Regions from separate parts of the Homo sapiens genome. Here regions 1, 3 and 4 are each reported to be linked to region 2. The links are microRNA targets in miRTarBase. Many come from high-throughput screens and were not tested one by one. Region 2 holds a microRNA gene; each other region holds the end of a gene's coding sequence.
The links. Region 2 holds the annotated microRNA hsa-miR-193a-3p (AACUGGCCUACAAAGUCCCAGU, at 2,341-2,362, shown strand). A microRNA usually pairs through its seed, bases 2 to 8, with sites in the 3' UTR of a target mRNA and lowers its output. Matches are read on the target gene's strand: a 7mer-m8 pairs with bases 2 to 8, a 7mer-A1 pairs with bases 2 to 7 and ends in A, and an 8mer does both.

Region 1: the mRNA of LYST is a reported target of hsa-miR-193a-3p. The part of its 3' UTR that is shown has no 7-base or 8-base seed match.
Region 3: the mRNA of LPCAT1 is a reported target of hsa-miR-193a-3p. Seed matches in the 3' UTR shown: 8mer at 1,911-1,918.
Region 4: miRTarBase lists CEP89 as a target of hsa-miR-193a-3p. The part of its 3' UTR that is shown has no 7-base or 8-base seed match.

What each region holds. Positions count from the first base shown.
Region 1 is chr1:235,659,990-235,663,131 of GRCh38, reverse strand. It overlaps LYST (lysosomal trafficking regulator), which reads left to right. Exons shown (of 53, transcript NM_000081.4): 53 at 54-2,091. The coding sequence ends at 192. Among named protein-coding and RNA genes, the nearest start is that of GNG4, 12 kb to the right of the region's middle.
Region 2 is chr17:31,557,710-31,560,851 of GRCh38, forward strand. It overlaps MIR193A (microRNA 193a), which reads left to right and starts at 2,287; the gene lies at 2,287-2,374. RefSeq lists a silencer at 1,069-1,558 and an enhancer at 1,300-2,090.
Region 3 is chr5:1,461,068-1,464,067 of GRCh38, reverse strand. It overlaps LPCAT1 (lysophosphatidylcholine acyltransferase 1), which reads left to right. Exons shown (of 14, transcript NM_024830.5): 14 at 233-2,641. The coding sequence ends at 417. Among named protein-coding and RNA genes, the nearest start is that of SLC6A3, 17 kb to the right of the region's middle.
Region 4 is chr19:32,876,666-32,879,807 of GRCh38, reverse strand. CEP89 (centrosomal protein 89) reads left to right here. Exons shown (of 19, transcript NM_032816.5): 19 at 430-3,142. The coding sequence ends at 646. Among named protein-coding and RNA genes, the nearest start is that of SLC7A9, 8.5 kb to the right of the region's middle.

The DNA of each region.
Region 1 (3,142 bases), not on the chromosome of region 2:
AATACACTTTTAAGAAATATAATGTACAAATGGGAATTTTTTTTTTTTTACAGCCTTACATTTTCTTGTGATGGCCACCATTTGTACACAGCAAACAGTGATGGGACCGTGATTGCCTGGTGTCGGAAGGACCAGCAGCGCTTGAAACAGCCAATGTTCTATTCCTTCCTTAGCAGCTATGCAGCCGGGTGAATGCGAATGAACTTCACGTTCTCCAAAGCACTTTAACTCCAAACTAGATTTGTTGACTTCACCAGTTTTAGGAGGTTGAACCTAAAGAAATGGATGACTGGACAAACCATCCAAATAATGATAAAGTCTATTCATCTGCACAAAATTCTGAAGAGTCACATGATCCTAAGAGGAAAGTTCTGTTCTATTTTAGTGATAATCTGGAAGATTGTGTCAATATGCACTAGCCAACAAGTTTTAAGCCTCGCATGGTACATTAAAATGATATTCTTAAAATTTTTTCCCACCAAGGTATTCCAAAGAAAATATTAAGGTCTCCCCTTTTTCTATGATTCCAAAAGGACCAGTAGAATTTAAATTGGTTGGTTGATTGTTTATATAAAACACACTAAAATTATATTTTAAAAGTTTACTGCCATGAAATACTCCTCCCACCACACACACATGCTCCAAAAGAGGAAAGAAAAAAAGATAATTTTTAGGACTTGATAATTGCTTTCTTTGAGAAGCAAATTATTCAGTAGGTGCCTCTGTACCAAATATTTTATGGAATATCTAAATACTAAAATAAACTATGAATGAATCTCAAAATTAGGCAGTTTTTGCCAGTTGCTTTCTTAGCTCAAAGGAGAACCAGAATTTTTTTGACAGCCACAAACAAGAATACAGGTATCTTGGATTTCAGACACATTCTGTTTCTTCATAAAAATTTTACTTAAAATCTGTAACGCTAGATATTGACTATCCTTAGTTGAGTCACTGAGGTTTAAACACAATGGTAAGTCTTAAAGTCTGCTATTTACAGAGCATTGAATCTGTACCAATTTGCAATAGAAAGCCTTCAGTATGCAAGAAGTTTGCATGGGTATTAAGAACACAGCCTAAATAAGGCATTTGATCTAATCTGCAGGAAGAATTTTCTTCCCCAAAACAGAATTATAAAAGCTTACTTTAAACAGGAGGCAGAATAATTCTTTTAGGAAACCATTTCATTCTGTTTCTACTAACCTATACCATCTGAGAATTCTAGGAAGAATAATAAAATCTCGTGTATTCCACAGCAAACTTACATACCATAAAGACAGAATTCCTAAACATCTTGGAGCCGTCTGTCTCTCCCATATGATGGCTGTCTGTATATTTTTACTTGGGGTGCTGCTTTATTGGCTTTGAAAACACTGTCAGATAAGCTCAGTAATATGTTACCATGGGATAAAAATATGTATCCCTGCCTAAGAATAACTTGTGCATTTGTTATGGAAATTTAATTCATATGGTGTTTACAGTACTACTTTTGTAACTTCCAGACTTTCTAAAACATTCTGCTTAAAAACCATATAAAATATAATTCCAAAGTCTCTGCTGTCAAGATAGATTCGAGAGAAAGCACGTGGCCATGTATGCTTTAACCTTAAACTGCATACACATGTAGTGATACCTAGGCTGCATTTAGATCACCGTGTGCTCAGGCCAGGTGTGAATCCTGAGGTCCATGGAGGTGCAGAGATGAGATTACTCCTATTCACGTTGAAGTGATTTGCTTTGTTAACAAAAAATTGCAGCTATTGTCTAGCTTTCATTTTTTTACTGAGAACTTTAAATTAGTCCCCTATTAGAATAGGGTTGCTACTCATCTTTTTTTAAAAACCGAATTTCATCATTTATCTAAAGAGAAAATATGCAGAATAACTGGTCTTGTTAAGAGTGCAATATTATATTTTTATGTAAAAATAAAAATTAATTTGGGGGGATTATTTATTCAGCATGAAACCTAATATGTATATGTTTGAAATACTTCATAATGTGCATGTTGTAGCAAACATTTCTGTAAATTATCACAAGCTCTGTTACCTTTATATACACTGCCTCTTCAATTTGGAAATAAATTTCATAAAAATAGATGTAAACACCTCTTCTTTAAGCTATTTAAATATTATGAGCAGATCTCAAATCGATGGCTTTCTGTGTAACCCACATAGGTTCTGTCTTTAGCTCCACTATGCATTTATATCACTAGAAAAAGATAACTTTCTTTTTTTTTTTTTTTTTTGAGATGTAGTTTAGCTCTGTCGCCCAGGCTGGAGTGCAGTGGCACGATCTCAGCTCACTGCAACCTCCGCCTCCCAGGTTCAAGCGATTCTCCAGCCTCAGCCTTCCAAGTAGCTGGGACTACAGGAGTGTGCCACGACGCCCGGCTAACTTTTTTTTTTTTTTTTTTTTTTTTTGTATTTTTAGTAGAGACGGGGCTTCACCGTGTTAGCCAGGATGGTCTCAATCTCCTGACCTCGTGATCCACCTGCCTTGGCCTCCCAAAGTGCTGGGATTACAGGTGTGAGCCACCACGCCCGGCCTAACTTTCATTTCTTATTGTGGTTTTTGTACTAAAATTTTATGTTTCAACCTTTACTACCCTTAGATGGTGTGGACACTAGTCCCAAGATCAAACCGCTCATTTTAAAGAAAAAACCATCTGCCCACCCCCGACCCCACAGCAGATCTATATTGAGCCCTTGCCAGGTGCCAGGCACTGTACCAAGTGCTGAGGATATCGTGCTGCACAAAGCACGGTGGTCCCCTGCACTCCTGGAGGTTACAGGCTGGTGGAGAAACCACCATAAATAACACACAATATGTACAGTTACAAACCATGGTAAGTGTTAGGTAAAATATAGGGTACTCTGAAAGAATGTAAGAGGAAGGACTTTATTTAGATTGAGGTGATCTAGAAAGCCTCTTGAAAAATTGAAATTTTTGGTGAGGCGTGGTGGCTCATGCCTGTAATCCCAGCACTTTGGGAGGGTGAGGTAGGCAGATCACTTGAGATCAGGAGTTAGAGACCAGCCTGGCCAACATGATGAAACCCCATCTCTACTAAAAATACAAAAATTAGCAAGGCATGGTGGTAGGCGCCTGTAGTCCCAGCTACTTGGGAGGCTAAGGCAGGATAATT
Region 2 (3,142 bases):
ACAAAATGGCGATTACAGAGGCCTGGGGCCAGCGCTGTCCATGCCCCAGCACTGGGCATCTCTGCCAGCGCTTGGCCGCCATCCCTCCCCCAGCTACGCACTCCTGGGAGCACCAGCTCCTGGACATGTCCTACCCAGGGATCCCGATGTGGGGATCAGATAAACCAGATATACCACTCAACCCTTACCAAAGTGAAGTTTAGAGACAGGGTCTCCCTCTGTCACGCAGGCTGGAGTGCCGTGGTGCGATCATAATTCACTGTAGCCTCTAACTCCTGGGCTTCAGCGATCCTCCCACCTCAGGTGTGTGCCACCACGCCCAGCTAATTTTTTTTTTTTTTTTAACTTTTTGTAAAGACAGAGTCTCACTATGTTCCCAGGCTGGTCTCAAACTCCTGGGCTCAAGCAATCCTGCCTTGGCCTCCCAAAGTGCTGGGATTACAGGTGTGCGCCACCGTGCCCAGCCTCATAGTGAGATTTAAAGGCATGATCTGGGTTGGTGAGGCCAGGAAAGAGAAGGCAGGAACATAGCTAATATCTATGTCGGGACACAAACAGATATGTCACGTTATTTTCTTTAAATGGCTCCAAATCTCGACCTGAAGAGGTTGGGAAACTCAACCTCAGTGGTTATTTGGGCTTCCCCATCACCCACGGTGCCTGGAATCCTGGCCATCTTGAGGCTGGGGATCTTGGTAGAGGCCTGGTTCAGGTCCCAGAGGAGACACGCAGTTACTCTCCCACATCCTGGCGTCTCCGGAGAGACAGTGGGGCAGCAGGTCTCCACCAAGGGGATTCCACTGACCTCCCACCCCTCGCTAATCTTGGGACAGCTCTTACTCAGCCTCAAAGCTTTTCTGTCCCACTCCTTTTCCACAGTCTCCCTAAAGGAACTCAGCTTTTCAAACAGCACAGCCAGGAAGAGAGGTTGTCTGCAGGCCGCTGGAACTGGGAGTTGAAAGCACGAAATTTTAACATCTCAAGAAAGTATGCTGCCCGGTACTATGCTTGGCACTTTAATTTATAATCTTTGCCACCAAAGCCCTGCCAGAAGTGCCCGGCGGCTCCAGGTTCTAGATGGGGAAGTTGAGGCCGGCGGCAGGCGCGCTCCACCGGGCGGGGGCGCGGCCCGGGAGCGGAGCGGCCGGCAGGGGGCTCCCCGCGCCGGTCTCCGCGGGAGGAAGCGCTGGCAGCTGCTCGGACGGGTCAAAGGAGGAAAAGGGAAAATTACTGGGCTCCGGGGCGGGAAGGACTGCGTGACTGGGAGGAAGGCACTCCAGACTGTCGAGTAGGGCCGCCCGCGTCGGGACCCCATCCCCGGGGCAGTGCGGGCCACCCGGGACCTGGGAACCCGGGCCACCCCCCACCGCCGTCAGGGTCTCTCCCGCCGGTGCCGCAGGCTGGAGCGGGCGTCGCGGCCGGGGGCGGTGCCGCCTAGGGGCGGGCGAAGGGCGGGCCGGGGCGGGGCGCCGTCCGCTCGGCTCCGGGAGGCGGTGCGGGCGGGCGCTGGCCGCGTCCGCCCGCCGGGAGCCGCGGGGCGCGCAGCCTTCCTGATGTGTCACCAGCACGTGGAGCCAGGTCGGGCCGCGGCGAGCAAGCCGACCCCCCCAACTTTCGAGGGGTCTCGCCGCCCCGCTCCTCTCCCGGCTTCGTCGGGCTCGCTCTCCTAGCGGAGGGGGCGGCGGCGGCCCCCAGGTCCCGGGCAGGTCGAGCGAGGCCACGGCCCCCGGCCAGGAGTTCGAGGGGCTCCCGGAACGTCGGGGCGCGGGCCCCGGCTAGCGGCTATGGCCCCCGTGCCCAGGCAGCGGTGCGGGCTCGGCCTTGCGGGAGGGTGCGGCCTGCTGCGAGAGGTCGGCCACGGCTCCTGCCCCGCGCCCCGCGCCCCTCGCCCGCCGAGCTGAGCGCAGGTAACCGAGGCAGAGCGGAGCTGGGCCTCGCAGGCGCGGCGTGGGAGCGTGGCGAAGTTTCTCGGCGCATAACTCTTGCGCCCCACTCGGGAGTGGGGCTGCGGTGGGGAGGCTTTGGTCCCCGCACCTCCCCCTCCCCCAGCGCTGTCCCTCGGCCTGAGCCGAGGCGGCCCGGGGGTGGCGTGGAGGCCGCCGAGCGTCGTGTAACCCTTGGAGGGCTGGGTTTGGAGCCCGCGACCCGAGGTCGGGCGGGGCGGTGGACTTTCCCGGGGAACGCCGCCTGAGGGACACCCAGAGCTTCGGCGGAGCGGAGCGCGGTGCACAGAGCCGGCGACCGGACCCAGCCCCGGGAAGCCCGTCGGGGACGCACCCCGAACTCCGAGGATGGGAGCTGAGGGCTGGGTCTTTGCGGGCGAGATGAGGGTGTCGGATCAACTGGCCTACAAAGTCCCAGTTCTCGGCCCCCGGGACCAGCGTCTTCTCCCCGGTCCTCGCCCCAGGCCGGCTTCCTCCCGGGCTGGCGTGCGCTCCGGCCAGGCTGCCTCTCAGGTCCACGCTGGAGAAGGAGTGGTGAGGTGCGCTCGCCCCGGCTGCGTGCGGTGATTCGGGAAATCCCCGCACTTCGCTGGAGAAATAGCGACGCTCTCGGAAGTGTGAGTCGGTCACTGCTTGGGGTCCGTACCCTTTGGGCAGACGTGGACCGCGCCCCGGCGACCTGGGTTGAGTGGACAGACGGGACCCGGCTTACCCATGGGCCAAGCCCTGCCACTTACCGAGGCCTGCCCTGCTGTGCTTTCCAGGGCGGCAACCTTGAGCTTGGGGGTGGGGAGAACGGGGCCTGACTTCTAGAATTGCCCCTGGGGAGGTGGGAAGCGGAGGTTTGGCCCGGTGGCGCAGGAAGCCCCTGTTCCTCTCCCAAACACCATTTCATTAAAGATGGATCTTTGTGGATGTGTTCCCAATGGCCGGTCTTTTGTTCCCTGACCGATGCAACATAATGTGGACCCACTCTAGTCCTCTTCAAGTTTTTTGCTGGAATTCCTTAAACTCTCCTTTAAAGTCTCTTATCTATTCCTCTAGTGCGTTTGCTTCTACTCCCCGAAAACAAAAACCCACCAACCCCTGAAACCTCGGGTTTGCCTGGTGTTGGAACTTTGGTTATTTGTCCTTTGTTTGTGTTGTGTTTTTGGCTCTTGGCCGTGGAAAAACATCTGGGGACATGCAGTGAGGTGACT
Region 3 (3,000 bases), not on the chromosome of region 2:
GTAGCTAGGAGGACACCCAGCCTGCCCCGGTTGTCAGGGTGACTTCGTGCGCTGCAAAGAAAGTAAGCGCAAGTTCTTCTCTCCACCCTGAAAGCATCCGTTTCACAGACGATTCTAACCCTCCCTGGAGGGCGTGAGGTGGACACCCACCAGGGCCGTGGGAAAAGAGCCTCCAAATCCTAGACATTTGCTCGTCCCCATTCCATAACCACAGGTGCCTTTGTCTTTCCAGCTGACTTCCACAGGTTTGCAGAAATGTACCCTGCCTTCGCAGAGGAATACCTGTACCCGGATCAGACACATTTCGAAAGCTGTGCAGAGACCTCACCTGCGCCAATCCCAAACGGCTTCTGTGCCGATTTCAGCCCGGAAAACTCAGACGCTGGGCGGAAGCCTGTTCGCAAGAAGCTGGATTAGGACCCAGGGTTGCGGAGAGACGCGGCCCCTCCCGCGTGGACATCACCGCCATGAGCCTCTTTGCGAGTGACCTCTGGGCTCCGCTCCTCACTCCTGCTGTACAGGCACTGTCTTCAGCCCGAGTTCCAGGGGCCTCGGGGGCTGTTTGTATCTTGTTCCTTTGTGAAGTGTGTTGCAGAACCGACGCTTACTGTGCGAGAATCGGAGGGCGCGCACGCGGATCCCCCGCCTGGCCTGGACCCCGTGGGGTCAGGTTCCCTGCCGGGCGGGGGGCACCGGTGCCGCCCCGTGTTCTCCCACGGGGCCCTGGTTTCGAGTCTCTGTCACAGCCTCTTCCGGCGGCAGCGTGCACCGGGCGGGCCTCCGTGCACACTCAGCACACGCCTGCCACACAGCGTGCGCTTGCGTGTCACTCTGGCACGAAACCTGTCTGCCTCTGTGGATCCACAGCCTGGCAGAGCCGAGCCGTCACCTGATTTTTCAGTGTTTCTACCTGTGTGCTGGAGCTCATGAGTATTTTATAAACTCCATTTAGGTACTTCAGGAAACATGCAGCATTTTTTAAAAAATGAAAATTGTTTTTCTACTTCATTTTTCCTTTTAGAGTCAAAGGATATTTATTTATAGGCCTTTTTTTTTTTAATATAGAATCTGAGGCTGTTTGGGCTTTGACTTAAATTTCCATCAGGCCTCTCTCCAGCAGGTAATCCCTCTCCTTCCGCTGGGTCCCCTGGGGAGGTGTGAACTCAAGGGCCTAGCCCCAAAACACTTTTTCTGCTTTTCTTAATCCTTTTCCAGTCCCCTCTTTTTTTATAAACGTTGGCAGTTTGATGTTTCTGTTTCGGCATAACGTAATCCATTTCACTGTAGCCTAAACTCCAGTCCGAGGTTGGATATTGTTCAAATGAGCAGGGCCCGAGCTGGAAGCGCAAGGCAGCCGCCGCCGTGCCGCTCCTCCCTTGCCCTCAGGCCAGGTCCCTGCTGGAAGCGGCTGCATCTTCCTGTCAGCCCTGGTTTCCATGGTGACTGGCGTCACGCTGCCACCCGAGTATGGCTGACCTTCCTGCAGAGAGAGGAGCCGCAGTCTTTTGCTTGTGGAAGGAGACGCTGGGCTGTGCGGTGCGGAGGGTGATGAGGATGTCTGGTGACAGCCGTGCGGACACCACTCCTCTCTGCAGCACTGCCTCCCAGCGCCAGGGTCGCGGGCACATCCCACTGAGAGCGGGGGTCCTGCCCCATCTTAGAGTCAAAGGCAGAGGGGCTTCCAGGCCCTGGATGGGGTATTTTGGTGTCACCTGAAGTCCCTCTGACATCACCTTGTTTCATCATTTTTTATGACAGAATTAGAAACCCATCCTTCAAGCACAATAATCATCACAGACTTGAGTTTGCTTCCTAAAGCAAAGGCTCCGGGTTTGTTTGGAAAATTTTTTTGATTTCTGAAATGAATTGATTTTTATATTTGGGGCATCTCTATAGAAAGTGACCACCAAGGCCAGTAAGTACGGGAAAAAATGTTTACTAACTTCCTCAGAGATTCGTGATACGCGTTTCTCCACTGACAGACATTTAAAAACAACCTTCAGCTCCGTTTCAATCAATCACCTCGACTTGTTTTTTAGCATGGACACTGCCAGCAGGACAGACAGGGATGGAGTAAACCGAAGTCAATTTCAGGGCTCTTGGCGTGTTGGACACAGAAGAAATCCTAGTGCAGCCTTTGGTAGCTAACAGTCACTGATTTTATAATTGGAGAATGCGTAAAGATTCATTTTTCAAGGAGAAGAGCCTGCAAATGGCCAATGAAGGAGGTAAATAAACTAAGATATTCCGAGGGAAGGGACCCAGGCCACCTCCCTTCCGCAGGTCTGCAGATGAAGGGTTTTTTGAATGAAATGCCACTGTGCATTTTCAGAAAAAAAAATCTCTGATAAACAGACTTTGAATGGATGTTTGTTCCTCCTGATTCTCTTTTCTCTTCGTGGCGACTTAGAGTTGGCGGATATTCGGAACTGTGAATGTACATAGCGTTGAGTTAAACCCCTTGTGTGTGAGACAGGACGCAGCGGGCCCCTGGTGGCCTGGGGGCCAGACCCGTGGGCAGGTGGGGCATGGGCCCTGGCCTGCGGGGACCTGCTGGGGTGTGAGGGCAGAGGGAGGGTTGCCATGAAGGAACTTGGGATTTTCAATGGAATAAGTAAAACATAAAGTCTATACTTGGGAATGATGTTGTTTTGTGTGGTTCTTTATTAGAAAGACAACAACAGGCATTGTGAGAGGAGAGCCAATCCAGATGAGATTTTCTTGGTGTGGTTCTAGCATGTTTGGAAAACACAAGAATTGAAATTCTGTAGAAAAAGCTGTCTTGGTGGCAAAGGGACGCTCCGGAGTGTTCTGGTATTTTGCGGACAGTAGCAGACATCTTACAGAGTTGAAACATGGATGGCTGGCTGCCTGCCTGGTGGGTTGACTTACGTAATTTCTCAATTTTAAGCACATGCACCTTAAGCGTGTTTTGTCAAGCAGAGAGAAAAATGGATCTGGCATTTAGTCCTACTGAGTCAGTAAAAGGTTTGGAACTAG
Region 4 (3,142 bases), not on the chromosome of region 2:
GTGGGTGCCTGTGGCCAGGCCATCGTGCTAGAGCGTCTGGCTGGCCAAGGCCAGCCCTGCAGTTCCTGCAGTTCCTTATTCGACACGCCCAAGTTCATTCTTGAGAGAAAACAGGGATTGCACTGGCGCCAAAGTCAAGGGCAGAACATAGAGGGAAGAGAAATGCCTGTGCCGTCCTGCTGCTCCCCATTCCCAGGGCACTGGCCGCTTCATTCCACACTGAGCCCCAGCCTGGGCTGTCCTGCTGCTCCCCATTCCCAGGGCACCAGCTGCTTCATTCCACACTGAGCGCTTGCTTCAGAACCCAGGCACCGAGGGCTCTGTTCCCTGCTGATAGCGTTCTTCTGTTTTGAGTTCTTGCTACTTTGGGATTCATATGGGCTCTATATTATTTTTAAAATTGTGCCATTTTAAACTTATTTCCCTCAGAGAAATGGAAGGTGAACTTGAAGTTATTTGGGAATCTACCTTCAGGGAAAACCGAAGAATCCGAGAACTTCTCCAGGACACACTCACGAGGACAGGCGTGCAGGACAACCCCAGAGCTCTGGTTGCCCCCAGCCTCAATGGCGTCTCTCAGGCAGACCTGCTGGACGGCTGCGATGTCTGCTCCTATGACCTGAAGTCTCATGCCCCCACCTGCTAGAATCTGCGGGAGCCCGTGGTGTAGCCTCCTCTGGCCTGAAAGGTCTGCCTCACACAGGCCTTCCCTGCAGGGCAGCCCATGGTGGCAGCCGGAGGTGCGTAAGCCCACTGAACGCTGCAGGGCAGGGAAGAAATAAATGGTCTCATAGTTTAATCCATTGATAACATTTTGCTTTATTTTTTAATTTTTTTTTTTTTTTAGAGCTAGGGTCTCACTCTGTTGCCCATGCTGGAGTACAGTGGTGCAATCATAGCTCACGGCAGCCTCAAACATGTTTGAGATCCTTCTGCTTCAGCCTCCTGAGTAGCTGGGACCTCAGGTGTGCACTGTCAGGCCCAGCTAATTTTTTTCTTTTTTGTTGAGATGAGGTCTTGCTATGTTGCTCAGGCTGGTCTTGAACTCCTGGCCTCAATCTGTCCTCCTGCCTTGGCCTCCCAAAGTGCGGGAATGACACGTGTGAGCCACTGCGCCTGGCCCATTGTGCTTTATTTTAATAACGTGCTGCTGAAATCTGTTTTAGCCAGGGCATGTTCTCTGGCCACATTGCCACTGAGATGAGTTCTATGACACCCACTGCTCTGGTGAGTAGGTGGCCTGCTGAGCAGGCCTGCCTTCCAGCTCCTAGATCTGCAGCTGGGAAGTGCTGGAAGGGTTGGGCGGGCAGCTGAGCCCTCGTGCCATGTGTCAGATGGGGAAGTGTCACCCGAGGAGCCAGGCCATGGCACCGGCCCTGATGATAGCTGTGCGTGAGCTCTGGGGGCCTTTTCTTGTTTGGTCAAAAAAAACAAGGTGCTGCTGCTGTTCATGCCCTCTAAGTTGTACAAACCTTTTCTGCCCTCTCCCCTAGCCCTTCTCTATCCTCCTGAGCAAGTACTTTATTCTCTTTTGTTTAGTTGTTACTTTTGTTTGTTTGTTTTGAGACAGGGTCTCACTCTGTTACCCAGGCTGGAATGCAGTGGTGCAATCACCACAGCCTTGACCTCCAGGCTCAAGCGATCCTCCCATCCCAGCCTCCTGAGTAGGTGAGATGACAGGTATACACTAACATGCCTGGCTAATTTTGTAAAAAAAAAATTTTTGTAGGCCAGCCATGGTGGCTCACTCCTGTAATCCCAGCACTTTGGGAGGTCGAGGCAGGCGGATCACCCGAGGCCAGGAGTTCGAGACCAGCCTGGCCAACATGGTGAAACCCCATCTCTACTAAAAATACAAAAATTAGCTGGGCATGGTGGTGGGTGCCTGTAATCCCAGCTACTTGGGAGGCTGAGGCAGGAGAATTGCTTGAACCTGGAAGGCGGAGGTTGCAGTGAACCAAGATCACGCCATTATACCCCAGCCTGGGCAGCCTGGGCAACAAGAGCGAGACTTTGTCTCAAAAAAAAAAAATTTTTTTTTTGGTAGAGATGGGGTCTTGCTATGTTGCCCAAGCTGGTCTCAAACGTCTAGCTTCAAGCAATCCTCCTGCCTAGGCCTCCCAAAGTGTTGGGATTATAGGTATGAGCCACCGCGCCTGGTCTGGGAAGGTAATTGATTCTGGAGCCACACAGCTCCCCACCCATGTAATGAGAGCCCTGGCTTTGAGCTAAGATAGAGTCCCTGCCCCACTGCCACCACCAAGAAGCATACCAGGGGGCCATGGTTCTGTCCCATGTGTGTTAGATGACGTGCCACCTCCTCAGGAAAATTACCCCAGCCGCTCAGGACCATTCAGTCCCAGGCATGCTGGAGGGACTTGGGGACATTGGGCTACAAAGGACCCTAACTGTGGGACTCAGGGGTGGCACCCTGCAGCATCTCCTTTTCAGAGCCCCTCGCAGTGAAGTCCTGCCTTGTTTCAGGTGGGAAGGAGGCCCCAGTACTGGTCCTTGGTCATGTGTAGAAGTTCTACGTGTGATCTTTGATTGCCAGACGGAAGGGTGAGATAGAAAATCATAGTTCTTTTATGACTCTATAAGCTTGTTCAACAGTTGAATCATTGTAATTTAATTTTATTTTACAAGCGGTAGAAAGACTCACTGGGATTGAAAACTGTGTATCATCTCCCTAGGAGATGACCTAACAAATAACTGTGATGCTATTTCAAAGGCATTTACGGCCGCTCTGCAGCCTCCTGTAGACAGGCTGACAGGCGGCGGCAGCCCAGCGTGGCTGCGCGGGGCAGGAGTGCTTGTCAGCAGGAATGCTGCTCCCGCCATCGTGACCTAGAGAACCACTGTTGACATCCCTGTCTTTCTGCCTTTTATGCAAACATTTTATTCTTTTGAGAAGTGTCCACTTTTGTTCTTATGTTTCTGCTTTAAGTTTTTCACACAGTGCAAACATACTTTGCAAGTATGGGGACTCCTGGATGGCACTGTGACCAGGGCAAGGGCAGGTGTCCCACAGACACTATCTTCTGCCCAGCCTCCTGCTGGGTGCCATAGGAAATGGGCAGAGAAGCCACGAGTCCAGGATGCCAAGGAGGGCGGGGCAGGCAAGGCAGAGAGGCACCTGGGT